2 separate regions of the Homo sapiens genome follow, and region 1 is linked to region 2. The links come from fine-mapping of genetic effects on gene expression. Tissue or cell type: lymphoblastoid cells. Region 2 holds a variant in brackets; the other region holds the start of a gene. All regions are shown on one strand. Distances are between the middles of the regions.

What was found. PIP is the estimated chance that this variant, and not a neighbour inherited with it, causes the effect. A credible set is the group of variants that fine-mapping cannot tell apart.
Region 1: OR2G6 starts here. The variant in region 2 is the best candidate, but not a certain one, in a credible set for the expression of OR2G6 in lymphoblastoid cells (GTEx, PIP 0.59).

Annotation. Positions count from the first base shown.
Region 1 is chr1:248,504,469-248,512,576 of GRCh38, forward strand. OR2G6 (olfactory receptor family 2 subfamily G member 6) reads left to right here and starts at 3,605. Exons shown (of 2, transcript NM_001013355.2): 1 at 3,605-3,961. All of the region lies in intron 1 of LOC105373277 (a long non-coding RNA gene), which reads right to left.
Region 2 is chr1:248,480,713-248,487,000 of GRCh38, forward strand. LOC105373279 (a long non-coding RNA gene) reads right to left here and starts at 1,349. Exons shown (of 3, transcript XR_007067006.1): 1 at 1,215-1,349. LOC105373277 (a long non-coding RNA gene) reads right to left here. Exons shown (of 3, transcript XR_002958498.2): 3 at 3,909-4,772. The variant C/T (reference allele first, on the strand shown) is at 2,537.

The DNA.
Region 1 (8,108 bases), 25 kb after region 2:
CCATTTATTTTACACATAAATGAGCTCATGCTGCATTTTTCTTTCTGTGCCTGACTTGTTTCACTTGGCATATTGTACTCCATACTTTAAAATTTATTAAGCTTAAAGAATTAAACAAGTAAGCTCTAGTTGCCTAAGAAGTTAATGTACCCAGAAATATAAATTTCTCAACAATCATGGAAAATGTGTTACAACTATATCTTCTTTCAAGTAGGTCTTGTAAATATTTTCTGTATTAATACTGACTATGCTCTCGTTTGGTTGTCATTCTATTCTGAGTTTTTAACCCTCTTGTTTAACCCAATCTCTCCTCCTCAAAAATGAATAAATGCATTGACTCAAGAAACATTTATTTTTGAGCGTCTGTTTTGGAATAGGTGCTATATTTTAGGCATTGGAAAGACACTAGTGATAAAAATGGTAAAATGCTTTATCTCCTGGATCTTACATTCTATGGTAGAGAAGAGATAATAATCGCAAAAAAACTATCAGGAATGATAAACATTATAAAGAAGAGTAAAATAGGGTGTGTAGGAGATAATTACTGTTTTATATTCACTGCTCAGAGATGTCTTCTCTGATAATCAAGAGAGCAGAGAAGAGAGACCTAAATCAGTTGAAGAAATGGGTCACAACGTATCGGAAAAGAGACCACCAGGCAGAGAGAATAGTAATCTTTTTTTCTTTATTCAGTGTATTAAATGCATTGTGTTTATTGATATACCCCATTAGTTTAATCATATTCCCTCACACTTTGTTATTACCTTTATTTTAATTGCCATTTTTAAATTTTTGTGATGAACAAATAAAATTGTATATATTTATCATGTACAATGTGATATTTTAAAATATGTATATTGTGTGGAATGGGTAAATTGAGGTAATTAACATATGCATCACCTCACATACTTATAATTCTTTGCAGTAAGAAGACAAAATCAACTCTTTGCCTTTATTTCAAAATTATTTCATTGTGTGGTATTTAATATTTTCTATTTAACAAAATGTGTATATTATGTACAAATACCTATGCATAAAACATATTTTATAAGACTAAAATATCCTTAATTTCCCTCTCTTTACACAGTATCTACTAGTTTCCTAGCATAAGGAAGAACAGAAAATATTTCAGAAGATATGTCTATTCTCCTTTCCTTCATCATTCAATTGTAGCCAATATGTTTACACTAGTGCTTATCACTATTTCTTTACACTTGCTTTTATATTTTCTCCATCATCTTTATTATTTTACAATCACTCACAAGCCACGGAGCAGCCATTCAGCTTCGTCCCCATCACTCCCTTTAAATTCTCTCCTGACTCAGGGTGATTCCCATTTCACATCTTTCTGTTGGCCGATTGTCGTCTCTTTTTAGTGGGTCATCAGTTCTCTGAACCGTCATATTTCTGTTTTAAAATGTTTTCTCATTTATAAAACTGCTTTATTAAGGATTTGGGGTTGTAGAGTATTTGAAGTTTATATCAGTATTTAGCTCCGATTTAAGGCAATAATTTTGGGGTAGATTTATTTTTTTTCTATAGTATTTTTGGAAAGACGTTGCATTTTCTAATTTCATTTTTAAGAATTTGATTTGCCTTTCCAGTTGTTACCAGGTGGATTGCATAGGGCTTGCAGGCATTGGGGAATATTCTTGTTTCTCAAGCCCTACAGCTTCATTGTATGCATTCCTGCTGTCTTCTCCATGTTCATTTCTACCACCTTCCTATTCGTGGTTATGCCTGGGATGGTGACCCCCTTAGTTTAGGCAAGATTGTCCTGTTATCTCCACCACTTCTTTCCCAGGTATACTCCCTGCATCTATCTCTTCAATAATCCTCAGATTGCTACCTGGCTCCGTGTTCATCAGGCTTGGGTATAGCAGTTTACACTTGTGAGAGGACCCTCTCCTTCTTGGGGAATAATATTTCCTGGTATTTTTTATCATTACCACCACCAGTGACCTTGACTGGGTCTCTTCTCTGCCGGACTTCCTGCTTCCAATATGGAGTTTCTGTACCAATTCTGATGAGTGTCCGTGACTTTCTTCCCCTTCCTTACATGTAATTTATAGTTGATGGATTGCCTTTGTCTCCTGATTTCAGTGAAGGAATCATTTGTGCTTTTTTCATTTTTTTTGTCTTGGATGTTTATTATATCATTGGAGAATTAAAGTAGGATAAAAAGATTGGAAGACTATCTAAAAGTTTGTATCAGCAACTAGGACTCCCTTATGTATGTTTGAACAGTTTTGTTCTGTTTGCTTTTGTGAGAAATGAGATGAATTGATGTGCAAAGTGTTATTAGTTAGGGTGCCTCAATATAGGCCCAGGAAACATTGGAACACCAAAATGGATGGAGCAGACATGAGCAGAACACAAAAAAGAAATAAACAGCAATATGATAATAGTAGGGGATTATAATACCCCACTCTCAACACTCATAAACAACAAATGGACCCAAAAATAAAGACAATTTAAAAATATCCTGAGACAAACAAAAATGGACAAATAACATACCAAATCATGGGGTACAGCAAAAGTAGTTCTGATAGCTACTGAGACAGAGAGAGAAATGATCCCAAATAAGCAACCTAACTTGGCACTCTGGGAATTAGAAAAGAAGAAAAAAGCCAAAAGTTAGAAGAAAGAAGAAAGTTATAAAGGTTAGAGCAGAATTAAACAGATAAGAAAGACAAAAGAAAAGATCAGTAACACGAGGAGTTGGTTCTGTAAAAACGTGAGGAAAATTGGCAAACCTTTAGGTAGACAAACCAAGAAAACTAAGAGAGATGACTCAAATAAAACTATAAGTAAAGCAGGAGAAATTAGTCAATACTACCAAAATACAAAGGGTCATAAGAGATTATCATGACCAATTATGTCAATAAATTGAGTAACGTAGAAGAAATGGATAAATTCTTAGACATGTATGTCCTGAAGAAAGAATAAACCTGAACAAATTAATAACTAGTACAGAGATTAAATCACCAATAATAATAATAATAAACTTAAAAGTTCAGGACTTGATGCTTTTACTGGTGATTGCTACCAAATATCTAAAGACAGATTAATGCTATTCTCAAACTTTTCCAAACAATTAAAAAGGGTGCACTTTCCAACACATTTTTTCATGCATTACCCTAACACCAATGTCAGACAAGGACGGTATAAGAAAATTACAGGCCAATTTATTTTATGATCATGGATGTAAAGATTCTCAACACTAGCAAACTGAATTCAATATGTTCAAAAGATCATTTAGTTGAATGTTTTCTTTCTTCTGAAATTCTTCATTTTGCTTCCAAATGTCATTTTTCCTTATATTTTATTTTTTCATTAATCAAATTTAATTTTAAAATTTCCAACTAAAAAAATCTGTGGGTTTAATAAACATATTTTTAATTAACATTTAAAAAAAGCACAAGTTTGTAAATTGTATATTTTCTGTCCATTAGATTTTGGTTTGAGTATTGGGCCAATTGCACGGTAAGCTTTTTAATTTTTTTCCAGAAGTAATCCCAGGACCTTAAATCTCCACTGAAACTCTCGAAGTTTAATTGGTCAGCTGGGATTGTAGTCCCTGGGGTGTTGAAAGCATAAATAAGCCATACCTTAAGTCTGGACCATTTATCCCTGTAGGGAGTCCCTCTTCTCCTCTGTTCTCTTTCAGAACTACTTATTACTTTAGGTTCAGTGTATGTAGCATATGGTGACTCTATGGGTTTCAGTTTTCTGAACCCCAAATATGCAAAAATATAGAAAAAGCAGACCAGGCATCCCACCTTCTGTGTGCCACTAAGGGAGCATCTCTTCCTCTTTCTCCCCTAATAAGTTGTATATTATTTTCTCAGTATTTTAATTTTTTGCTATTTATATTATCTGAGATTTATCATTGGAATCATACAAATATTAAACCAGGAAAGATCACCCAGGAAGAAATTGAGATCACCCACAATATCAGGTATTCTAAAACATGTTATATGAAAATTGTAATAATTAAAACATGAATCACAAATCTTGCAGGTAGAAATGTCAACATATTAATTTTTTTGAGGAAGAGCAACTTGGATGAATATATGGATGTAAACTTGCTGATCAACTACAGCCAAAAATTACATTGTAATTGTAACGTGTCCCTAAACTTGACCCATTACCAATCCTGATAAGTCTGTGCTTAGGATTATGTAGATTTTCAAAGGATTGAAATGTAGTTGCCTTTTCCAAATCTTGACTAGCTTGTCTGACAAGGTAGGATCATGTCAAGTAGATTGGACTGAGGTGATCCCTTTATTTTAAAGAGCAGTCTTTGGCAAACACTGATACTAGAAACTGATATGATTTTGCTCTTGTTGAAGAATTTTACTTATTATAAATGTTTTTTAAAAACAAGGGAAGGAAACATAATCTTAAAACCACTCATTTGTGTCCATCCACATTATACTGTAGAGAAGACTGACTTTTTTTTCCAGGTGATTATTGTAGCAAAACATTTTAAGTTTTATTGAGATCGTTTGTCATGTCTAAATTTGTTCATCATAATATATCCTGAGCTTAGTTCAGTGCCTGGCTCATGATAAATTTTATTTATTTAGTGTGGTGAGAGCACTTAACAGGAAATTTACCCTCTTACACTTTTTCAGTGCACGATTCAGTACTGTGAACTCCAGGCACGGTGCTGCACAGCCAATCTCTAGGACTTCATCTTGTGTCACTGAAACCTTATACCCATTGCACAGTAGATCAAGAGAAGAAATACTTGATACACGGCACAAGACCTATAGAACACGCAGGGAAAACTTCTTCTGGCATCAGAAAACCTGTTCATTGCTGAGTTCATTCATTATATTCACCTCCTTACACCACAATGCTAACCCATGAATCTAACTGGCTGTGACAAAACTGTCTTTCATAAACCTACAGACTTTAAGATTTATGGAAAGAGAAAGACCTGTGGCATCCTAGAATTCTAACATCCACTCTTGGATCATCATGACCACTTAGCAGAGCTTTGCATTGAATTCCAGATAAAGAATATCAAACTCAAGGATATAGCAGCTCTTGAATAATGGGAAAGATAAATGAAGTGTTTGGCAAGTAGAAAGATAATCATGAAGTTCAGTCATTAAAGTCTCGCCCTGAACAAATGCCATGGACTTGACATCATAAAAAACATAAAATAGGTATAAGTCAAAAATGTTTATTTTGGGAAATTATATTTAAATCAAAATCAAAAATATACTCATCTGAAAGACAACAGAAAGTTCTGTCACCAAGGGAAATAAAACTCTAATTACCAAAACAAAATGTAAACAAAATAAAACTTACATAAATATATACATTCATGCATTCAAAAGAAGTTGCATAGAATTTTATTTAGCCATATCTCAGTATTTTGGAATTTTGCAAACACCAAGAGTCGCAATAATAATACATAATCTTCGTCTCTCACTCTGTTATTTTTTCCTCAAGCTTGGGAAAGATAATGTGTGAGTGGATAGAGTGATTCTGGGGATCGGGATGAGACAATTCTGCTTAAGGCAACTTCTCTTAGGATGGCAGGAGGTAGCAAGAGAAGAAAGGGCAGAATAACCATTACAGTTTACACCATATTTATAGCTATAATGCCTTAATATAATATGAAGTAATTACTTTCAATTACTTTTTAATAACAGAGATATATACAATATATATTCTTTAAAATGGTTATCTAAAAGTTTAAGAAATTAAAAAACCTTAATCTTAGAAATTATCTAGAAATTTAAATTTCTGAATTATAGGTAAATGTGTTATGATTTTCTTTTTTCAAATAAGCCTTACAAATATTTTCAATATTGATACTGTTTCATTTTAAATGTGCCACTAACATGATGCTGTCATTTCATTGTCATTCTAGCAGTAAGGATTCTGAGTCCTTAGCACTCTGTTTGACCCAGCCTCTCCTTCCAGGAAATGACTAAATATACTCATTCAGAGCATATTTATTTTTGAGCATCTACTTTGGGGCTACCACTGTGTTAGGCTTTCAGCACACAGCAGTGATAAAAATGAGCAAAATGTCTCATCTTATTAATATGACACTATATTGTGGAAAAGAGAAACAATTGTAAAAAATATGTTCAAGATTGTTAATTTTATGAAGAAAAATAAGACAGCATAAGGGACAGATCAGTCATTTTTATTCATTGGTCATTGAAATCTTTTCTGATAATCGAATAGCACAGAAGAGACCTAAAAGAACTGAAATAATGGGTTCTAGTGTATCTGGGGAAAACGACTCAAGGTAAAGGGAACCATCATCTTTTTCAGATGGCACTCAGAGCCATAAGAGGTTCAGATAGATCCACCCAGCAGTGAGTGCAGTGGGTTTTTCTAGGCAGAAAACACAGAAGAAACATCAAGAAATCACATGATTGGCTTGCCATGTCCAAGTCCTTTTCTAATTTTGTTTTTCTTTTTAAAGCATATTTTTTGCCTGCTACCATGACTTGTAATTTTTGATGATGTTGTTGAAAGCTGATGTATTCATTTGCTATGCGTACCATAGCATTCTGGTAGTTTGATGACAACCTTTGGCATTCCTTGGCTTGAAGTAGCATTACTTCAATCTATTCCTTTATCTTCAAAAGATAATATTCCTGGGTGCATGTCCAACTTTTTTTAAATAAGGACACCAGTTTCAAAGGTAAAGCCCAGACACTGGTTAAGGTAGTGAGGACAGATTTTAATTAGTAACATATTTTGGGGTATTTGTGGGTTTTTCACCTAAAATGTAATCTTACACAGGCTGTAGATTATATCTCTGTTTCCAGGAAGCCCCGTGTGTTGCTTTGTGTGTGCATCAGTCTCTCGAGAACCCCCTGTGAATCAGGAGGCATACGTTCCAGTGACTATAGGGAGTCGAGGGGCTAAAGAGGTAAGTGAAACATCTGGTAGGGGTAAAAGGATGGGTATATATCAAAAGTCAGGGGTGTTTAATGGAAAAGAGGTGCATATCAAAGTGTCAGGGGAGTTCAATGGAAAAAGTTAAGATGGTAAAAGAAAGAAGGAAAAAAGAAGGAAATGGGAAGGGAGCAGTCCTATAAGAGCCACTTTAGGCAGATCTTAAGATTTTCAAATAAACCATTGCAGTTCCGAATTATCCACAGTAAAGTCATTTTGCCTAAAATAGAAGCAGACATGGTTAGTGTCATAGTATATATAGAGAGTAGGAACCCAAAAGGGGTTTAACTGTGGAGTTCCTGTGGGAAGAGTAAGTTCAAATAGAATGAAGAGGTCTCACAAGAAGCCAGAGTGAACATTCCAGCACAGGAGTTAGGAAGTGAATTCCCACTGAAAACAGGGAGCCAGGAAGATAAACAGCCAGCCCAGGAGATGTCTTTCAAAAGCAGCCTGGAATTATAACCCAGCCTTAGAGACTACAGCCAGAAACATAGGAAGAAAATATGTCCTCGCCATGCCTCAGTGCAAATTTCTACACAGTGTTAGGCCAGAAGTTGAACTCGCCACCAAATACCCAAAAAAGTAAGTCAACTGAAGATCAGACAAAGGTTTCTACGCATGCAGAAAGGATTGACTGTTTTGTCCAAGGGCCAGATAAGGGTTCCAATCTGGATTTGAGTTCCAGTGCCAGATAACTGTCAAGACAAACAAAATGGAAAACTGGTTAAAGAGGTAAGAACGTGCTTTAACTAGTCATATACTATTGAAACAGGCAAGAGTTCAGCATGAACTTAACTTTGATGTATCCAGGTTGAGGAAAATGTTAAAGGGAGTTTGAGGAAAGAGAAATGGGAGTTAGTGGGGGCTCAGGAGGGTCAGGGATGTGAGAAATTACAAATCGTGAGAAGGGGGGAGTTGGTTCCTGTGAAACCCATTTGCTTTGTTAACTGATACTTGCTGATGTTGGGCTTCTACCCTCCCACAGAGGTCAGGAGACACCAGGCCTATCTTCAAGTCTTGGCTGGGACAAGCATGCTATAGATTGTCTGTGTACTTACATAAGTTATATGTTGAAATCTTAAACCCCAATGTGATGATATTGGGAGAGGAAGTCTTTGGGGGTTGATTAGATCATGAGTGATGAACTCATGAATGGCCTTAGTGACCTC
Region 2 (6,288 bases):
CCTATTCTGAAAAAGAGAAATTGGAAGTTAAATAGAAGTCTTAGAGCCAAAGCAAACTTGAGCCTGGCAGGGCAAGTTTCGTTAGATTTCAGGACTTGAGGTCCTCTTTGGCTTGATATCCTGACCTCCAGTCCATAAAGGTGGTGGCCCCTCTTCCTTTGTTCTGTGCATGTATCTTGCATTTCTTTATATCTCTGATGGTGCCTTCAGGATCATTTACAAAATGTTTGACATGTTTTATATATTTATAGTTTAATTCTTAAAATGTTATTTTTGTTTTTATAAATATTTTCTCAGTTTACATTTAAAATGTAAAAAAAGTAGAACTTTAAGCAGGGTTTCCACCATAAATATTAATGTTGAAAAAATATATATCAATAGCTTTTCTGTCACTGTTAATGCTTTTTAAGTATTTTTAAATGAAAAATATTCTCCAAAAAATTAAATTATAAAAATCTCAGAATCTCAATTATTGTGGAAGAATTTTATTAAAATTACTTTAAAATCCAGACCCGACCTCTAAGTATTTGGATATCTCTGTGAGACCTATTGTGCTTGTTTATAAAAATCTGCAACATTTTAACAATATCAATTCTTCCCAAATGTATTTCATTGTATTCTAATCAATACAATTAGTTAGAACTTTTGAACCTAGCCAAATAGATCAACTGAAAGGAAAAACAAACTTAAAAACTTGCTTATTTTGAACATGAACATACATGAAGACAAGAATTGTTTCACTAGTTGTTTAAAATTATCATGAGGGGACACCCAATAAAACAAGATATTTTAAAGGAATTCAGTGAAAGACCAATGGAAAAGAAGAGATAATGTGGAAACCTAGCCTCCCCTGCACTGGCTTCTGGTATAAGATGTTGACCCTCCTTCCTTGTGTGATCCCGTTGTTTCCTCCACACACCCTGGTTCTCAAAACCATGATTTCAGGACTGCCTTCTCTTATGACCTCTGGATTCGTGTATACACTAGCCTTGCATCATCTTCATGTAGATGTGTACTGGGCAACTGGAGTCCCAAATTTCAGTTTCAGCGTTCCATGCCAACCTGCCCAGCCCCAATATTCCTGTGTGTATAAACGGCAATCCAACTTCACCTCCTCCACCACACCCCTTGCCCAGACACCATATGTCTCATCAGGACTAGCTCAAACCCTTTCCTGCATTCTCGCTCAAGCCTTCTCAGTGATAATCATATACCTGTTCCAAATGTCTTTCCTCTCTGTCCGTCCTCCAGTGATATCTCAGAGTGGGATTCACCGAGAAGCAAGGAGAGTCAAAGCTTTGGGGCCCTTCACTCTCTGGAGATTCTCTGAGTGCTGTCTGTTGCTGGGAGTTGTATGGTGGGGTGGGGTGGGGAGGGGAAGCCAGGCTACAGTCAGAACAGACTGTGAGCATGCCTGGTAAACTTCCTGAAGAGTTCTTAGAAGACAGGGGCCAAACATTGGCTGAGACTTCCTTTCTTTTTCTAAGTGCACATGCACTCTCTTGAGTGCCGTGTATACTTTTGTCTTCCCTTTCTTAAACACACCTCTGCCTGTCCCTGGTCCTTCTCAGGACCATCATGATTTTATAGGACCGGTTCCTTGGTTCCACTTCTAACCCCATTTTCTGTTTTGCCAACTTTCTCACCTCAGTCTGGGGCCACAGATCTTCTTGCTGCTGTTCAAACGTTGCAAGTTACTTTCAGTCTCACAGCTTTTAACTTTCTCTGTTTCCTCTGCTTAAAGCATCTCTGCCCCGTTGTTTACGAGTGACTCCATTGTTTCATTTACGGATCTGATGAAATTTCACCTTCTAAATAAAGGGCTCCTAACTAGCCTGTGTTAAATAGATTCGCTAATCATTCCTATCTCATCTCTCTGCCTTTATTTTTTATTTACTGTGATTATTAATACTTGACATTTCATTACATATTTATTAGTTTATTGCCTGTATTTACCACTAGTATATAAATGCTGTGTGGGAAGAATCTTTGTTTCAAACATCATAAACCTAGATAGTGCCTGGAACAAACAGTTACTAATTATTTTTGAAATTAATGAATAAAAGAAAATACCATTCAACATTGGAATTTAATTTTAACTTAAAAGCAATAATGTTAGCAATTCACTGCATATCACACCCAAATAAATTATTTTTGTATTATAACTCAAAGGTACCAAAAAAACCTCTGAAACTCATTAAAAGTGTAAAGGTAGATGCTTTACATAATCCCCAAATGCATAAAGACTTTGTAAGCACAAAACAGTTAACGAAATTATTAAAGTTAATATATTAAACAAAATACTTTAAAAAATTCTGATGACACAAAATATCAGAATGAAACTGAAATAAAAATATTTTAGTTGATACTATTCACAAAGAGTTACTATTTTTTTTCTTTTCTTTTTGAGACAGAGTTTCACTCTTTTTGCCCAGGCTGGAGTGCAATAGCGTGATCTTGGCTCACTGCAACTTCTGCCTCCTAGGTTTGACTGAGTCTCCTGTCTCAGCCTCCCAAGTAGCTTGGATTACAGGCA[C/T]GTGCTACCACACCAGCTAATTTTGTAGTTTTAGTAGAGATGGGGTTTCACCATGCTGGCCAGGCTGGTCCCGAACTCCTGACCCCAGGTGATCCACCCACCTCGGCCTCTCAAAGTGCTGGGATTACAGGTGTGAGCCACCGCATCTGGCCAGTTATTATTTTCATACCAAAAACACATTTATATTTATGAAGAAAACATTTCAATAGAAGCAGTAGTTACATGGATAAACATGAAAAGTTATATAAACATATTAATTAAAAAAGACAAATAATGATACACCTATGAAATTGACCAAGAAGGAAAAGCACACATAATTCAGAGCTGGTGCAAGTGAAGTTTAATTCTGCAGCAAAATTTGAAGAGGCTTTTGGAAAAGTAATTCAATGTTGTATATTAAGAAGTGTGAATCACCGTATATCAAATGGTAGATTGTCTCAGGGAAAAACTGACATTCAGAGTGTATTTTTTGTATAATTAGTTTTATTTCTGCATAATTTATAATGTTGAAATTTTTAATGTCACTATTCACTCTTAGGAGAAGATTGCAATTGTGATATAATTACTCTGATAGATATTAACTCCAGTAGATACTGTCCAGTCATATACGAACACTACATATTGCAAACCGAAGAGATGTAACACAGAAGATTGGTTAGAGGTGGCAAAGGGTTACAGGGAAGGCTGGAGAAGTGGGCAGGGGAGTGTTGTCATCCAAGGACCAAGAGTCCTCACCACTGGAGCCCCATGTGCCCCTCACTGCTGAGCTGATGGGAACTCTGCACTCCAGGGCTGCTGAGAGAACCCTGCCCTGGTGATGTGCAGCAACCCAGATGCCTGCATCTCCCCAATACGACTGAAACTGCCTCTCAGGTGCTGAAGTCTGAGGCCCCCCATGGTCCCTGTTGCTTATAGCTGCTGACCCACACCCCCATCAGAAACGGAAAAAAGTAGTTTACTTCTTCCTCTCACCCTGCAGTGTCCACCCACAAGGGCCTGCACTCTCAGAGCCTTACGAAAAGTGAAGTAGCAAAGAAGTCAGGACAAACCACGTGCAGGCTGCAGCACTGTGGGTCAGAGACTCCAGCCCTCAAACGTGCACCTAAAAACAGGACATTGTCTAGACAAAGGTGGTCATGAAAAGACCTCCATGATGTAGGAAAATGATCAACATTTTTCCAGAGCACGTCTTTAGAGAAAAGTTCAGAGGAATTTGGCTGCAAGATCTAAGATGGCGGTGCAGTTTCTTCTGTCTTCTTCCCTGTTTTATTCCAACAGCCTAATACAGGGTATACACTCAATGAATATTTGTAGTTTAAAGGGAAGATATAACATGTAAAGTATCATTTTTGTCTGGTTTATTACATTAGAGTCGATTTTAAAATTTTTATTCAACCAGTTTTACTTTAGATTTTTCTATGACTTTAATGACAGTATTTAAAACAAAAACAAAGATAAAAATCAAATGCAACACTAAAGCAATAAAGATTGCAAGTGAGTGAGAGGGAAACAGACTACAATCGGTCCTAATGAAGAGGGAGAAAGATGAAGATATGAAGATGACTCCAATTTTAGTTTTAATCAAGGTACTGATTTGTGGAGGTATCTTTGACACATCAGTTGACCTCTGAGTTTCAGATTCTATACCTGTGAAATGTTAGAATAAAAATAACAATATCTTACAACATTTACTTGAATATTAAATGAAGATCACACATATATATGGAATATATTTTATAATGTGGAAAAGGCTAAGGCTGTATATGAACTAACTCCTACATTTCATAAATAAGATTTTGATGATGATGAGATTTGAGATTACTATTACTAATATTGGTTAAAAGTTTGCATTTCATAACAGAGGTAAAAATTGTAAAAGCTATTAGAAGAAAACCAGAATTGTTCAGGAGAGATACCTACTGACTTCTTTAGCTCTCTTAATTGCATTCTTCTTCAACTCCCAGAGGTGATGTATCAACCGAAAGCTTTCAACCCCTCCCCTAGTGCACACGGTAAAACCAGGCAGGTCACTTTCTTACTCCTGTTGGTGCTCTTAACCTGGCCACACACCACCAGCCCATCTAGGTGAGGTTCAAGACATCATCTGATGGTGAGTTCAGCCAGACAGACAGGAGGTACTAGCAGGAAGAAAAGGGTCATCACTGCTCTCGACTTGTTCTGCTTCTGAAACGTTCTATTAGTTCTTCACAGCATTTCCTCATTTTTTCTTTATCATCTGTTTTTAATGGAGAAAAGCAAATGTTATTCTTTCTTATAACTTCTATACAACACTTATTTACTGTGACATAATGGTAAATAGATTTTTAATTTCCAATTATTTATGGACATAATAATATATATTCTATAGTTTTAGATTTTCATACAATGATGTATTTATTTTCCTGTCACTGAAGTTTTATAGAGGAAAAGTGACTGATTTTCTTTTGAGAGGGGATGATTTCTGAGGGTTACAAAACACTAGAAACAATGTCTCAATCATTTTATGTTTCTTTGATGAAACCCACAGACAGTGGCCTAAATCCAAAGTGTAGACTGCAGAGGGAGGATGGTGTCCCTGAGAGGAATCAGGCAGAGTTACGTGCGCTGGCTCTCTCTCTCGGGCTGAGACGTGCGTTCTATCTCAGGTTAGGTGTGTGATATTAGGCAGGTACCCTGAGAACCTGCATTTTTTAATATGTAAAGAGAGAAAATAATAGGAAGTAACTCATAGGCTCTTGGGAAAGAAGAAATGTAAAGTATTAATTTTAGTATTAGTATTAGAACAATTCCTGGGATGCTGTATGCTTCAAATAAAGATTTGACTCCATTTATACTTACAATAAATCCCCAAGTTAAACATGCATTAAGCAATTTACATGAAAGTCAAACAAGCGGGTACAGAAGAAGAATGAACAGGGGGCCAGTTCACTGTGTGTGGATAGTGTTCCCTTATCTGTCCCGTGTCCTGGTTGAGCTGTTGATAGTGGCTTAATGATAGTGGCTTAATGATAGTGATGGCCATTTCCTAAAGAGCAGCAGAGATTTCTTAGGAAACCCCGCATCTCCCTGCCCTCCTGCTCCCCCTCAATTTACTGAGCAAACACCTTTTAGGTCTTCACATGTGCTGGTCGCTCCTCTGGTCCTTGCTTCACTTTGGCCACAAATAATGGACGAGGTCAGCAGGTGTGTTTTGCAGTTTATTGGAATGTTTTTAAATTGTACACAGATCTCAGCCACCATTTGCCAGTAGGGGTAGTGTTTGATACACATTATCTATCTATCTATCTATCATCATCATCTATTCATATATATACATATGTACATAAAATGTGTCTCAGATTTGTTGGATATTTATATTAAAGCACCGAAGCATCCCAGAATGTTGGAAGTTTTGGTGAGTTGAATGTCTTAAATACTTTTTGTAATTACTACAAGAATACAAAATATATTTGAAACTTGTAAATTCATTCCAAAATGTCCCTGCATCATAATCACAGCTAAAGTCTTCCCAGAAAGAGGAGTTATTATGTCCTTATTCTTGGCAAGGGCTCTCAAAATTTAACATTTAATATGTCAGAAGTTGAAAAGTTGGAAAGTTTTAATTTCTTTCAGAGAAAATGTGGAAACAGCTATTATGGATTATTTCAGAACGGCCAGATATATTTTGTGTCTATTGCCCTTATTTATTTTGTAACTATTTAAAAATTCAACTTCAAATCACATTTACATAATAGTTGTTCCCTGAATAGACT